2 separate regions of the Homo sapiens genome follow, and region 1 is linked to region 2. The links come from fine-mapping of genetic effects on plasma protein levels. Region 2 holds a variant in brackets. A gene starts in the other region. All regions are shown on their forward strands.

What was found. PIP is the posterior inclusion probability: the model's chance that the variant is causal. The UK Biobank Pharma Proteomics Project read protein levels with antibody pairs (Olink). The fine-mapping took linkage between variants from a reference panel, not from the people measured, so its PIPs are less certain.
Region 1: it holds the start of LGALS3, and the variant in region 2 is fine-mapped to the plasma level of the LGALS3 protein (UK Biobank, PIP 0.92).

The regions. Positions count from the first base shown.
Region 1 is chr14:55,124,343-55,132,476 of GRCh38, forward strand. LGALS3 (galectin 3) reads left to right here and starts at 4,910. Exons shown (of 6, transcript NM_002306.4): 1 at 4,910-4,958. It overlaps LOC124903319, which reads left to right. Exons shown (of 3, transcript XM_047432036.1): 3 at 708-1,125. The coding sequence ends at 762. RefSeq lists a silencer at 4,606-5,205 and an enhancer at 5,556-5,745.
Region 2 is chr19:5,839,987-5,846,277 of GRCh38, forward strand. It overlaps FUT3 (fucosyltransferase 3 (Lewis blood group)), which reads right to left. Exons shown (of 3, transcript NM_001382750.2): 3 at 2,902-4,865. The coding sequence starts at 4,853. The coding sequence ends at 3,768. Among named protein-coding and RNA genes, the nearest start is that of FUT6, 3.4 kb to the left of the region's middle. The variant G/A (reference allele first, on the strand shown) is at 4,652.

The DNA.
Region 1 (8,134 bases), not on the chromosome of region 2:
AGGATGGAGCTCGTGCTGCGTGCTGAAGAGTTTTGTGTAGTACTGATGATGCCAAGGTTGCAGTGAGCTAACGTGCATTTTTTCTATCAGCCAAGGGTCTAGAGAGAGCTGGGAGCAGGCAGATTGTGAGTTATTTGCGCAAGAGGGCTATGTGTCCTGGACCATGAAGAAAGGCAGACTTATAGCTTATCTGCCTTTTTTTTTTTTTTTTTTTTTTTAGACAGAATCTCACTCTGTTGCCCAGGCTGGACTACAGGCACCTGCCACCATGCCTGGCTAATTTTTGTATTTTTAGTAGAGATGGGGTTTCACCATGTTGGCCAGGCTGTTCTCGAACTCCTGACCTCAAGCGATCCACCCATCTCTGCCTCCCAAAGTGCTGGGATTACAGGCGTGAGCCACCGCGCCCAGCCTGCTGTCTCTTTTTGCTTTCCCTTGATCCCACCAGCCCAATTCTCCACTTCCCCCAGCCCCCAATTAGGACTCCACAATTCTCCCAACTCCACTTAAGGTGAGAGGTCATGAAGTGCTAGCTCGGTTGCCGGGCCACTTTATGAGGATGGCAGGGAGGGGATTCTGAGAGGAGTGGACAGGAGGTGCCCCATGGGTGTCTATGCTGGCACAGGTCCCTGTTGCAACTCACAGTGTTATTCTTGCCATTCCCACTTTCTCGGATCTTTACAAGCCTGCCCCTACTCCTTATTTAGGTCTCAGCTCAAATACCACCTCCTTGGAGAAATCTCTGCTGACCACACTTGCTGAACTGACAGCCAGCTCCTCCCCTGCCCTTCTCTGATATGGGATGAATTGTGTCCCTCTCTCTTTGCAAAAACATTTATGTCAGTACCATCCGAGCCCCGGATACGTCAGAATGTGACTGTTTTTGGAGATAGGGCCTTTAAGGGGGCAATTAAGTTAAAATGAGGTCTTAATCTAATACGAATGTGTCCTTCTAACAAGAGGAGATTAGGACACAGACAGGCATATAAGAAAGACCATGTGAAGATATAGAGAGACGTAAAAGCCAAGGAGAGAGGCCTCAGAAGAAACCCACCCTTCCAACATCTGATCTTGGACTTCTGGCCTCCAGAATTGGGAGAAAATAAATTTCTGTTATTTAAGTTACTCAGTTCCTGGTGCTTTGTTATGGCAGCCTTAGCAAGCTGGCACACTCTCTATCCCTTTCCCTGGTTTTATACTTCCTCAAGAGGCAGGTTAATGCTGTAGCGTGGTTAAGAGCGTAGCCCTGGGTGTGGCTGCAATAAGGGCAGTAGTAGTGGCAGCAGCCACTTCCTGTCTATAGACAGAAGTGACTGGTGGGAATGTGGGTTTGGTGATGGCTAGTGCTGAAGACAGGCCTGGGTTAGGCTTGAAGGACAAACAAGGAAGGTTAGGCTGAGGTGGCCAGGGCTGAGGTTGGGCTGGAGAAGGGGTTTTGCACCTGCGGTGGCACCTGGGACACCTCTTCTCCCTGATGCTGTTGGCCTGCCCATCCAAGGCAGGAGGGGCTAGCTCCCTTCTAAGCAGGTTCTGGCTCTCACTCTGTCCCAGGGGGCTCTAGTTGCAACCCAGGTGGTAAGACCTTGTAAACCATCATTGGGCACATTACTGCCACCAACCCTATTTCATTTGTTGACCAGGTTTTGGTGAGCCTGTTCATTCAGCAAGCTAGAAGGGGTGGATTTTGCAAAATAGTTGAGGCATATATTAGGCCCCCACTAAAGGCCTTGGATATGAGTAAGTACATATAGATAACTGGGACTAGAAACAGCAGACAGCCACAGTCATTTCGTTCTGAAACTGGAAATTACTTTGTCTTCAAGGCATAAATGGTTCCCCAGAACACTCAGCCTCTCTTTCAGTCCCTAAGTCTGCCAGCCACCCAGATTCCAGTTGTTGGCACCAGAAAGACCAAGTGCCCTGAGGCCTGACTCAACTCTTCACTTGTCACCCAGATGTGTTAACACCATGTAGACACAGAATTGCCAAACTTGCCTGGGCTGCCCAGGGTCCAAATGTGAAAACTGGAAAGCAGCCGCTTTGCTCTTTTCTGGCTGTTCCTGTATTCTGCTGTCTACACGACTTAATACCAAGATTTTTGTTTATATTTCATAGGAACTTCAGCTTTTGTGAGACATTCTTTCCCTATCTGGCCCACTGTAGTGCTAATTTCTGGGAAATTTCTCTCCTCTTTTCTGGCTTGTTCCAGGTTCACTCACTTTTTATATTTTCATAATTCTTCTATTCTCCTCTCTTTTTCCTTTCTCTCTGGTTCTATTTTCCTATTTAAAAGGTGACTTTAAAAAACTGGCTTTGCTGCCGGGCGCAGTGGCTCACGCCTGTAATCCCAGCACTTTGGGAGGCTGAGGTGGGCAGATCACCTGAGGTAGGGAGTTTGAGACTAGCCTGACCAACGTGGAGAAACCCCATCTCTACTAAAAATTGGCCAGGGTGGTGGTGCATGCCTGTAATCCCAGCTACTGGGGAGGCTGAGGCAGGAGGAGAATCACTTGAACCTGGGAGTGGAGGTTGCGGTGAGCCGAGCAAAACTCCGTCTCAAAAAAATAAAATAAATAAATAAATAATCGGCTCTGCTTTCTTCTCCAATTACTGTCTTTCTTTCTCTTTTCTGCTTATCCTTAAAGACTTTCCCTTTTTGTTCTCATCTTCATCTCCTACTCTCTTCTGGCTCTAACTGAAGTTCTCACGCAGCTTCCCTCCTGACCTTCTGGACAGCCACCTGCTTTCCCAAGTTTCCTCCTTTCCCTCCTGTGGAGATGCCTCTCTTAGAATCCTTGCTTTTATCAGCGGCTTACAATCTCTGCATCCGTAGAAACCAGACAGCCTTTTTGTTTGAGGGCTAACACTTGCCTTGTCCCTATTTCAAATAACACAGTGAGCTGTACATAGAAGTTACTCAATGATATCTTAATTGATTTTATTGGGTTCCTTTTTACGCTTATCTTAGAAAAGGGATGTGACTTTGGATTGGGTAATAAAGAGCCGTTTATTGCATGTGTACAAATTATAAATTCCCAGGCACACCCTGATCATAGCAGGATCCTTTTGTTAGCTTTATGGGGCATGAAGTTGGCACCAAAGTATTCATGGGGATGTACAAGTAAGGAAGGGAAGCCAAAAGCATGTCTGATCATACAATCAGGTGTAAGCAAGCCCCCTAAGTAGCCAGGGCATGAACTTTGTCTATCTCTGAAATGACCAGAAGAAAAGGCAAGAGTGTGATTCATCCCTTGCCTCCACAGCAATTCATTTGGCTATCTACTTTTCTTATTACCAATGGCTAACCCTCTAAGGGTACCACTCCTGGCCATGAGGCCTCATGACTCAAAGTCTTAAGATTTATAGCATTTTCCCTGGAGACCAAGGGCATTCCTTTGGGTGATACCTTTTTACTACCCAGAGGTTAGTCATTTACTATGGGTGATCCATTCAAATAAATTGGTTGCCAGGCTACCTCTTCAGATAAGAGTTCAAACTTGCATAAATAATCCCCAGCCACACTGTGACTTCTATGTGCAAGCCTAGAGGGGACGATGTTGCAGGAACCGTGCCAACCACTAAGACACTTTCAAGTTTATCCTAGAGAATGCCAAGACAGCTTCTCAATTCCATCAAGTGAGTCCTTCACAGGAACATTTCCCTAAGTTGAAAAACTGCAGGAAATAATTTATCTTTATGTTATTAATTGGTTACTATAAGGGCTACAGGAATTATTTAGGAACCAGATGATACCTGGTTTTCTCCATAGTTTACATAAGCCAGTCCCTGCAAAGATTCTTCCCCTACCCCCCTTAATTTTTTTTTTTTTCCTCAGAGATCCTTGTTCCAACCTGCAAGGATTCTTTGGCCTGGTGCTTTTCCAGGTAAAGTGTAAGAGCCAGGATTTCTGGATTTTGTTCCTAGACATGAGTGAGCTTGGATAAGTAAATCATTTTCTCTTTTAGTCTGTTTGGGCTTCTGTAACAAAATATCATAAACTGGGTAGCTTATAGGCAATATACATTTATTTCCCACAGTTCTGAAGGTCGGGAAATCCAAGATCCAGGCCAGCAGATTTGATGTCTGGTGAGGGCCTGCTTTCTGGTTCACAGAGGGAGCCTTCTGGCTGTGTCTTCACAAGGTGGAAGTGGCAAGGGGTCTCTCTCCGGCCTCTTTTATTAGGGCACCAATCTCATTCATAAGGACCCTGCCCCTATGACCTAATCACTTCCCAAGGCCTCCACTTCCTAATACATCACCGTGAGGGTTAGGATTTCAACATATGAACTTTGGCGGGATATAAACATTCAGACTATAGCACCCTGACAGTAAAAATGAGATAATAATACTTATCTCTTTCTTCCAACAAAAAGATAAGGTGAAGTTAAAAGGAGGGTATATATATATATAATGTGAATTTCCTGTGTAAAATGTGTTAAAGAGTTGTCTGATTAATTGCTTTATAAGGGAATTGCTTTGAGACTAGGCCTATTGATCTAGAATAAGTAGTCAATTTGTAGTCAGTTCCCTAGGGAATAGACATTGAAAAGATTTTTGGTTTTGTATTCTACAAATAAAGCAACCTATTAATTGAATTCCTCTCAGCGAATTCTTCACTCAGGTGATTCTGGAGAGGGCGGGGGACAGACGCGGCCGCAGCCCAGGTCCCGGGAGCGCCACGGAACCTAACGGTGGCAGCGGAGGTCGCGCCCCTCAGTGCCCGCGCTCTCCCCGTCGGGAGCTTCCTGGTCGCCCCTGCGGCGGCGGCTCGGGGTGTCTGGCCGGCGCGGGGCTCGCCCAGCCTGGTCCGGGGAGAGGACTGGCTGGGCAGGGGCGCCGCCCCGCCTCGGGAGAGGCGGGCCGGGCGGGGCTGGGAGTATTTGAGGCTCGGAGCCACCGCCCCGCCGGCGCCCGCAGCACCTCCTCGCCAGCAGCCGTCCGGAGCCAGCCAACGAGCGGTGAGCTGCGCGGGGCGCGGGGGACGCGGCTCCGGCCGGGCAGGGGAGAGGGCGCCCGGGCGCTGCTTGGGGCGCGGTCCGGAGAGGGTTCGGCTCCCCGGGACCGGGCCGGGGCGCGCGCGGAGAGCCCCACAGCCTGTGCTCTGCCCTCCAGGAGCGGGGCGGCGGGCAGCGATCTGGGCCCGGGGCAGTCGCCTTTGATTATCGAGGGCGCTGGCGTTCGGGGAAGGTTGGCAGCACCTTACGAGACCCACACACGTCCCCGGGGCGGCACGGGCCACCTTCTGCGGAGCCTCGTGGGCTTCGCCGCCGTCGCACCTCCGCCGCCTGCGCTCTGCGGCCCCAGAGTAAGCCCCATCCGGTGACGAGCCGCAGTCTGGTCACCCCAGTCCCACCAGGTCCCGCTGCGAGGGGAGGCGGAGGGGCTCGCTCAGCAAACCAGACGGCCGCTCCAGTTTCTCTAATTGGGGTTGGAGCCCCGTCACCCTTCCCCAGATCACGGCCGCGGGGGAGCGAAGGGACTTCCCAGGACTGCATAGGGCGCCTCCCGGGACCCACAGCTTGGCTGGCCCGGCCCCTTTTGAGCATCAGCTGAGGCTGGACTTGGAGGAGATCTCGCTGTGGAGCGCGAATGAGTTCTTCCACCGGGACCAGCTGCGGCCGGGCTGCAGCCGCTGTCTGGTTGCTGATCCCACAGAAAATGGTGCTTGCCCCATGGCCTGAGTGGGCATGACCCGGCTTTGCAAAGACTGCAAACTCTAAGCTTTTCCGAATCAAATGCCCCTCCCTGCCCAGACTGTCTGTGCCCAGGAAATGGTGGGTGTGGCAAAATGTTGGTCCTAGCGTGCAGAGCCCTACCGGGGGGCTTTCACAACATGTTTGAGAGTTTATTCTGAATTATCGGGTGCTCAAATAGAAACACTAAAACGATTGCCCTCTGAGCAGTAGGCGTTCAGGTCCAGGGAGTCGGGGACGCATGGTGGAGGCTGGGACTTAGGTTTCAGCCTTACCCTTCAAGTTCGCCATGCGGGTTCCAGAGACTGCGGAATGTTTGTAAAGTGACTCTGGGAATTGGGTTGCTGCGCAATGAGGACACCTGGACCTCAGTGACTCAGGCTGTCTCTAGGATTCTGGGGAAGAAATGGGAGAAGGCTCAGTTAATTCTGAAGAAAATGAGACTGATACAATTAACTACTTGGGCACAGGGCCTGAGAAGAAAAAGCTTTCGTCAGCTTCCAAAGTTCTGATTTGTTTACCTAAGGTTTTTTTTTTTTTTGAGACGCAGTTTCGCTCTTGTTGCCCAGGCTGGAGTGCAACGGCACTATCTCGGCTCACCGCAACCTCTGCCTACCGGGTTCAAGCGATTCTCCTGCCTCAGCCTCCCGAGTAGCTGGGATTACAGGCATGCGCCACCATGCCCGGCTAATTTTGTATTTTTCGTGGTGGTGGTGGTGGGGGGGGGGGGGTCCCTCCATGTTGGTCAGGCTGGTCTCGAACCCCCGACCTCAGGTGACCCGCCTGCCTCGGCCTCCTAAAGTGCTGGGATTATAGGCGTGGGCCACTGCGCCTGGCCTACCTCAAGTTTATAAACATTTCATACTAGGAAATTGTGTGTTTCCATAAAAGGTAAAGTTGAATAATGATCATTTACTTTTCTACAACAATAGTCTCCCTTTTAGACATTGACTCTCAATCCTTAGGGTAGGGTCTCTCATTCTAAAGATGATCATACCCCATCCTTGATCTTTGGGGGACTTAAGCAACTTCCTAAATTCATAATATTTAGAGGTGATGTTTAAAATCAGCACTTAGTCCAGATTCTGGGGAGAAGTTTGATGATGGTCCTTGAATATTTAGCACTTAGAAGTGCTAGGAGGATGCCTCACTAAGTTACGTAAGAAGCAGAAGAGGACGAGTACCGCCTGATGGATTGACCCCGAAAACTAGCTGTGTCCAAGTAGAATAGGTGTCTCGCTCTGTTAAGCGGTCTTTAAACTATGATAGTTCGCTGTACTACAAATATGCATAGGTGCTTTACAAAGACTTTTCACTTAGTGAGGTCAAGAGGCTAATGCTGGTCTCATGTATAATTTAGGTACCTTTTTACATAGAACCCTCATTAGCCAGACTCTAAACCTTAACTGCAGCCAAGACCTTTGTTCATGTAGTATGCCTTCAGAATCTCGTGTTGACCTTAAATGCCAAGTGGCTTGTAAACTTATGTACTTGATACTTGTGGTAACTGATCTCAAACATAGCTCTTCTTTCCTGTGATCGTTTGGGACACAGGCTCCCACTCAAGGGTAGCTCCTTGTGTCTGGTGCCTGAACTGGATCTTCTCATTAAATTCTGAGTGGGTAACTTAAGAACCAGTCTAGGCTGTGCTTGCTGTATACTTCCAGTTCGCTATTGACCAAGTGTCATGTGTTCTCTTTTGAACTGTTCAGCTTTTCCGTAGGGGGGAAGATCAGTCATGAGAAGCAGAAAGTAACTCTACCTTCCTTGATGCCAGGGAGCTATGATGAGAAAGAAATCCTAGGAAAGGACCAGTTCCCCTTATTCCAACTTAGCATCACTGAATTTGTCTTTGGCAAATGGGCTTTCCTCAAGTCCTGCTCTGTGTTTCAGCAAGGACAGGAAGTAGACTGCCTCTTGTGTTACTTGAGGAGCAGTGTAGGGCAGTGCCTAGGGGCTCAGGAAGTAGTCTTCTTCTGTGACGGTTGCGCACAGGTCAGGGACCTTTATGAGCAGACATTTCAGAAGTGTTCCTGGGAACCCAGACAACTGGACTGATTGCTGGGTGGGCCTAGAATAGCATAGTGCAGCGGATAGCTACTCTTTGTTAAAGGGAAAAGCTACCAATTAACAGCCGATTAAAATGGTCTGTATTCTAACTCATGTTTAAATTCCTTATTCTGAAGCTACACTGAACTGCTTACTGTAGGTGTTTACAAATGTGGAGACCCAGCTAGTATTTCTCTACTTTTAGTTTATTTTTTGAAGTTTTTTTTTTTTCCCCTCTGACTGTTCAAAATTCTCTGATCCTGGAAACACCAGGGTGGGGTTCACATATCTATAGTGTCTGTAGAGTGGGAAGATTTGTGACATTTGATTGTATGTCTCTCTCTGTAAACTACTCATCTGAAAAGAAAAAAGAAAAAAATTTCAGGCAAGTA
Region 2 (6,291 bases):
TTCCTTGACTGGTGAGGTTGACTGTAACTTATTAAAAAAATGACTTCTGGGGGCCGGGCGTGGTGGCTCACGCCTGTAATCCCAACACTTTGGGAGGCCGAGGTGGGCAGATCACGAGATCAGAAGATCAAGACCATCCATCCTGACTAACATGGTGAAACCCTGTCTCTACTAAAAATACAAAAAAATTAGCCAGGCGTGGTAGTGGGTGCCTGTAGTCCCAGCTACTTGGGAGGCTGAGGCAGGAGAATGGTGTGAACCCGGGAGGCGGAGCTTGCAGTGAGCCTAGATTGAGCCACTGCACTCCAGCCTGGGCGACAGTGCAAGACTCTGTCTCAAAAAAAAAAAAAAAAAAAAAAAAGACTTCTGAGGCCATGCACAGTGACTCACACCTGTAATCCCAACAGTTTGGGAAGGAGAGGCAGGAAGATCGCTTGAGCCCAGGAGTCTGAGACCAGCCTAGGGAAAACAGAGATACCCCTATCTCTCTCTTTTTTTTGAGATGGAATCTTGCTCTGTCACTCGGGCTGGAGTGCAGTGGCACAGTCTCAGTTTACTGTAACCTATGCCTCCCGGGCTCAAGCGATTCTCATGCCCCAGCCTCCCGAGTAGCTGGGACTACAGGCGCGTGACACGGCACTGGGTAACTTTCGTATTTTTTTAATAGAGCTGGTTTTCGCCATGTTAGCCAGGCTGATCTTGACCTCCTGACTTCAGGTGATCTGTCTGCCTCAGCCTCCTAAAGTACTGGGATTAGAGGCCAGGCATGAGCCACTCCGCCCAGCTGGGTTTTTTTTCTTTTTTTTTTTTGAGACAGAGTCTCGCTCTGTGGCCCAGGCTGGAGTGCAGTGGCACGATCTCGGCTCATGGCAAGCTCTGCCTCCTGGGTTCACGCCATTCTCCTGCCCCAAGTAGCTGGGACTACAGGCGTCCGCCATCACGCCCAGCTAATTTTTTTTTTTTTTTTTGTATTTTTAGTAGAGACATGTTAGCCAGGATGGTCTCGATCTCCTGACCTTGTGATCCGCCCGCCTCGGCCTCCCAAAGTGCTGGGATTACAGGCGTGAGCCACCACGCCCCGCCCCCAGCTGGGTTGTTTCTTAAGGATTCAAAATCCAAAGGTAGGTCTCTAGTGAGGGACAGTAGGGCTCTAGTCATTCCATCGATGTGATCGCTGGGCAAAGGGAGGGTGGAGGACCTTGGGCTGACCTCAGGGATGGTGCCAGAGAGAACGTGTGCTCATCCTGAAACTGCTGTGTGACTTGAGAGGTTTCCTGGTCCTCTCTGAGCAGGGCTCACCATACCAGTGCCAGGTGGGACCTCCCTGCCAAGGAGCTGAGCCCAGAGCCCAGAGTAGGGTATCATGAGGACCTCTTCCCTCAGGCTCAGGGCAAGCTAGGACCTGCTTGAGGCTTGCAGGGGCAGTTAGGCCATCTGTGCACCTCGTTGGGGTCTTGGCCCTCATTGGACCCTCCAGTGCCTTCCCTGGCCAGGGCTGGGTGGGAGATGGAGCTGCCAGCCTGCTGGAAATTTTTCTCCCCCTGGGGCCCAGGGCTGGGAGCCAAGGGCAGCTGGTGCCCAGGAGGAGGGAGAAGGCCCCACGGGCTGGGCGTGCCATGAACCACATGTGAGATCCGGGGCATACAGGGAGGCAATGGGGGTTTGAGGGCAGTGCTGGGGTTCCAGAGGGGGCAGGCCAGAGCCCCCCAACATCGGCCAGGTGGCTGGGCCTCTGCCCTCGTGGGACCCAGGGAGGGTTTCCATGTCCCTCTAAGCCTCAGAGGAAATTCCAGAGGCAGAGAAAGAGAAGTTGGGAAAGGGAGCTCTTCACTCTGACATCAGCTGAGGTAGAGGCGGAGACCACAGGGGCTCCAGGGGCGTCAGAGGACAGAGCAGCCTGTCCCCACACCTCTTACCCCCTGGGGACTGGGCCTGCCCCAGCCTGTTAGGAAGCCCTGGCCTGGCCTGCCGAGGGCCCCGTCCCCCTCCCAGGACCCGTGGCTTGCAGCCAGGTGGTGGGGAGAGGGGCCCAGGTGTGTGGTGTGGGTGGCAGGTGAGTGATGGGCCCAGCAAGGCTGGCTCAGGCCCGGGGTCACCAGAGGGTTTGGTAGAGACTCTTCAGGCCCCCCACACCCTCCCCACCCTATGCCCCTCCACCCTCCCACCTGGGCCTCAGGGAGGCATCACAGGCACCTCTGCACCTCCACTGTACAGATGGGGAAACTGAGGCTCAGAGAGCACCTGGGATTCACCACCACCACCCACGTCTTGGTCTCCCCTGGCAATTTTATTTTACTTTATTTTATTTTATATATATATATTTTTTTTGAGACGGAGTCTTGCTCTGTCACCCAGGCTAGAATGCAGTGGTGCAATCTTGGCTCACTGCAACCTCCACCTCCTGGGTTCAAGTGATTCTCGTACCTCAGCCTCCCAAGTAGCTGGGATTACAGGCGCATGTCACCACGCCAGGCTAATTTTTGTATTTTTAGTAGAGACGGGGTTTCACCATGTTGGCCAGGCTGGTCTCCAACTCCTGACCTCAGGTGATCTGCCCGCCTCCACCTCCTAAAGTGCTGAGATTACAGGCGTGACCCATTGCACCTGGCCTATTATTATTGTTATTTTTGAGATGGAGTCTCACTGTGTCGCCCAAACCGGAGTGCAGTGGCGCCATCTCAGCTCACTGCAAGCTCCACCTCCTGGGTTCACGCCATCCTCCTGCCTCAGCCTCTGGAGCAGCTGGGACCACAGGCACCCGCCATGACACCTGGCTAATTTTTTGTATTTTTAGTAGAGACGGGGTTTCACCGTGTTAGCCAGGATGGTCTCGATCTCCTGACCTCGTGATCCACCCTCCTCGGCCTCCCAAAGTGCTGAGATTACAGGCGTGAGCCACCGTGCCTGGCCGGCCTATTATTTTTTATTTAGAGACGTGGTCTTGCTATATTGACCAGGCTGGTCTTTAACTCTTGGCCTCAATCAATCCTCCTACCTCAGCCTCCCAAAGTGCTGGGATTACAGGCGTGAGCCACAGCGCCTGTCCACCCTTGGCATTTTGTAGACAGCAGCAATTTCCCTCAACCCCAGAATATTTGGAATGTTCCAGAAGTCCTCATTTACAGTCGATCCCACCTGTACCCTATAAGTGGTGGTCCTGGGCTTGAACTTGGACCTGTCTGAACTCTGAGCTCTTAACCCCTGAGGTGAGAACCTGGGGTGAGCTCTTAACCCATGGGACCAACCCCTCTAGAGTGAGGAGACACGTCATCATTTTTCCTTGCAGTATTACATCTGGAAACCGTGCCGTGATGATCTCTCTGCACCCCTCACAGGCGGCTAACAACATCACAAACAAATCAGCCAGAACCATCACTCCCGGGTGGGGCCCCAAGTAAGCCAGTTCCCCAGGGCCCAGGGCCCTCCAGGGTGAGGTCCCCAGCAGGTGAGATTCAGTGTGGCAAGGTCTCTGGGAGCAGGTCCCAGCAGGTAAAGTCCCCGACCGCCGACATCCTCAGTAGGTGCAGCCTCCAGCAGCCAAGGTCCCCAGCAGGTGAGGTCCCCAGCAGGTGAGGTCCCCAACAGGCGAGGTCCCCAGCAGGCGAGGTCCCTAGCAGGCAAGTCTTCTGGAGGGGAGAGGCTCCTGGCAGCCGTGAAGCCCAGCGTGTGAGGTCCCAGGTAAGAGAGAGGGTTGGCCACAAAGGACTCCAGCAGGTGAGGCCCCAGGCAGATGAGGTTCCCGGCAGCCCAGGCACCATGCCGGCCTCTCAGGTGAACCAAGCCGCTATGCTGCGCACCGTCTGGTACCTGGATTCCTGCTGCAGTTTCCAGCAGGCCTTGCAGAAATCCAGTGCCCAGCTGAAGGAGCGAGGCCGCAGCGTCTCCCGCCAGCGAAAGTAGCTCAGGTAGCGGGCGTGGTCCTTGTCCAGCTCCTGCAGGTACCGGGCCAGGTCCTTGGGGCTCTGGAAGTCGTCCACGTGGATGAAGGCGTCGGGTGGCAGGAACCTCTCGTAGTTGCTTCTGCTGGGGCCCAGCACCACGGGCACGGCCCAGGCCTCCAGGGCGTTCCTCCACAGCTTCTCGGTGATGTAGTCGGGGTGCAAGGAGTTCTCGAAGGCCAGGTAGAACTTGTACCGGGACAGCGTCTCCATCATGGTCCCCTTGGGCAGGGGCTTGTGGGAGCGTCCGTACACGTCCACCTTGAGATGAGCCTGCAGGCTCTGGTAGTAGCGCACCCTGGCTGAGTCCGGCTTCCAGTTGGACACCGCCCAGGCCACCAGCTCGGTCTTGGCCGAGAGGTTGAGCGGTGGGTGGGCAGGCTGGCCGGACCACGGCTCCAGCCAGCCGTAGGGCGTGAAGATGTCGGAGTCGCTGCGGTAGGACATGGTGAGATTGAAGTATCTGTCCAGGGCTTCCAGGTGCTGGCAGTTAGGGGGTGGCTCCAAGTTGAACCAGATCCAGCGCTGCCCCTGCGGCCTCGGGGAAGGTGGGAGGCGTGACTTAGGGTTGGACATGATATCCCAGTGGTGCACGATGACCATGTCTGCCTGTGGGTACACCTTGCGGTCGGCAGTGATGTGGCAGTCGGCTGTGCCGGGCACCATCTCTGAACAGCGGGACAGAGCCACAGGGATGTGGAAAGGCCATGTCC[G/A]TAGCAGGATCAGGAGGGTGGGGCGGGTGGGAGTGGTGTCCTGTCGGGAGGACCCACTGGGAGCCCTAGGGGATCCAGTGGCATCGTCTCGGGACACACGCAGGTAGGAGAAGAAACACACAGCCACCAGCAGCTGAAATAGCAGTGCGGCCAGACAGCGGCGCCATGGCCATTGTGGCTTGGCTGCACCCAGGGGATCCATGGGTCAGAGTATCTGGGAAGAGAGGAGAGAGGAGTGAGGGTCATTGATGACAATCTCCTGCTTACCAAAGCTCCGGGCCATGAGTCCTGAGAGGAGCTGCTATTATTCCTGTTTCACAGATGAGAAAACTGAGACCAAGTGACTCACAGCAAAAATCAGCACAGCTGGTGTTTGAACAAAGGGACCTTGTCCCAGAGTCCACTTCCTTCTACCTATTAGACAAGACCTTTCCTGGAATCCCCGAAGTCTTCCCCAGTCTACTGAAATACAAGTGCCCTGGAGGCAGGGGAGAAGGCATAGCCGGTCATCATTGCTTCCCATGTCACTGAGGCAAGGCTTGAATCCATGACTCAGCCAGAGAAAGGTACAATGGGACTGGGTTTTGCAGGTAATATATGAGCTGACCGGCCGAGCAGAGTGGCTCACACCTGTAGTCCCAGCACTTTGGGAGGCCGAGGTGAGCAGATCACCTGAGGTCAGGAATTTAAGACCAGCCTGGCCAACATGATGAAACCCCATTTCTACTAAAAATACAAAAATTAGCTGGGTGTGGTGGTGCACACCTGTAGTCCCAGCTACTTGGGAGGCTGAGGCACGAGAATCACTTGAACCCAGGAGGCGGAGGTTGCAGTGAGCCAAGATGACACCACTGCATTCCAGCCTGGGTGACAGAGGGAGATTGTGTCTCAAAAATAAATAAATAAATAATAGCCGGGTTTGGTGGCTCATGCCTGTAATCCCAGCACTTTGGGAGGCTGAGGCAGGTGGATCACTTGAGGTCAGGAGTTTGAGACCAGCCTGGCCAACATGGTGAAACCCTGTTTCTACCAAAAATACAAAAATAAGCCGAGTGTGGTGGCTCATGCCTGTAATCCCAGCTGCTCGGGAGGCTGAGGCATGAGAATCACTTGAACCTGGGAGGCAGAGGTTGCAGTAAGCTGAGATCATGCCACTGCACTCCAGCCTGGGTGACAGAGCAAGATTCCATCTCAAAAATAAATAAATAAATAATTTTTTTAAAAAAAGACCAGCCTGGGCAACATGGCAAAATCCCAACTCTACTAAAAATACAAAAATTTGCCGGGCAAGGTGGCATGCGCCTGTAGTCCCAGCTACTTGGGGGAATTGCTTTAGTCTGGAAGTTTGAGGCTGCAGCAAGCTGTGATCATGCCACTTAACCCCAGCCTGGGTGATGGAGCAAGACCTTGTCTTAAAAAAATAAAATAAAAGGCTGGGCTCGGTGGCTCACACCTGTAATCCCAGCACTTTGGGAGGCTGAGGTGGGCAGATCCCAAGGTCAGGAGATCGAGACCATCCTGGCTAACATGGTAAAACCCCGTCTCTACTAAAAATACAAAAAATTAGCCAAGCGTGATGGCGGGCGCCTGTTGTCCCAGCTACTACTGGGGAGGCTGAGGCAGGAGAATGGCGTGAACCC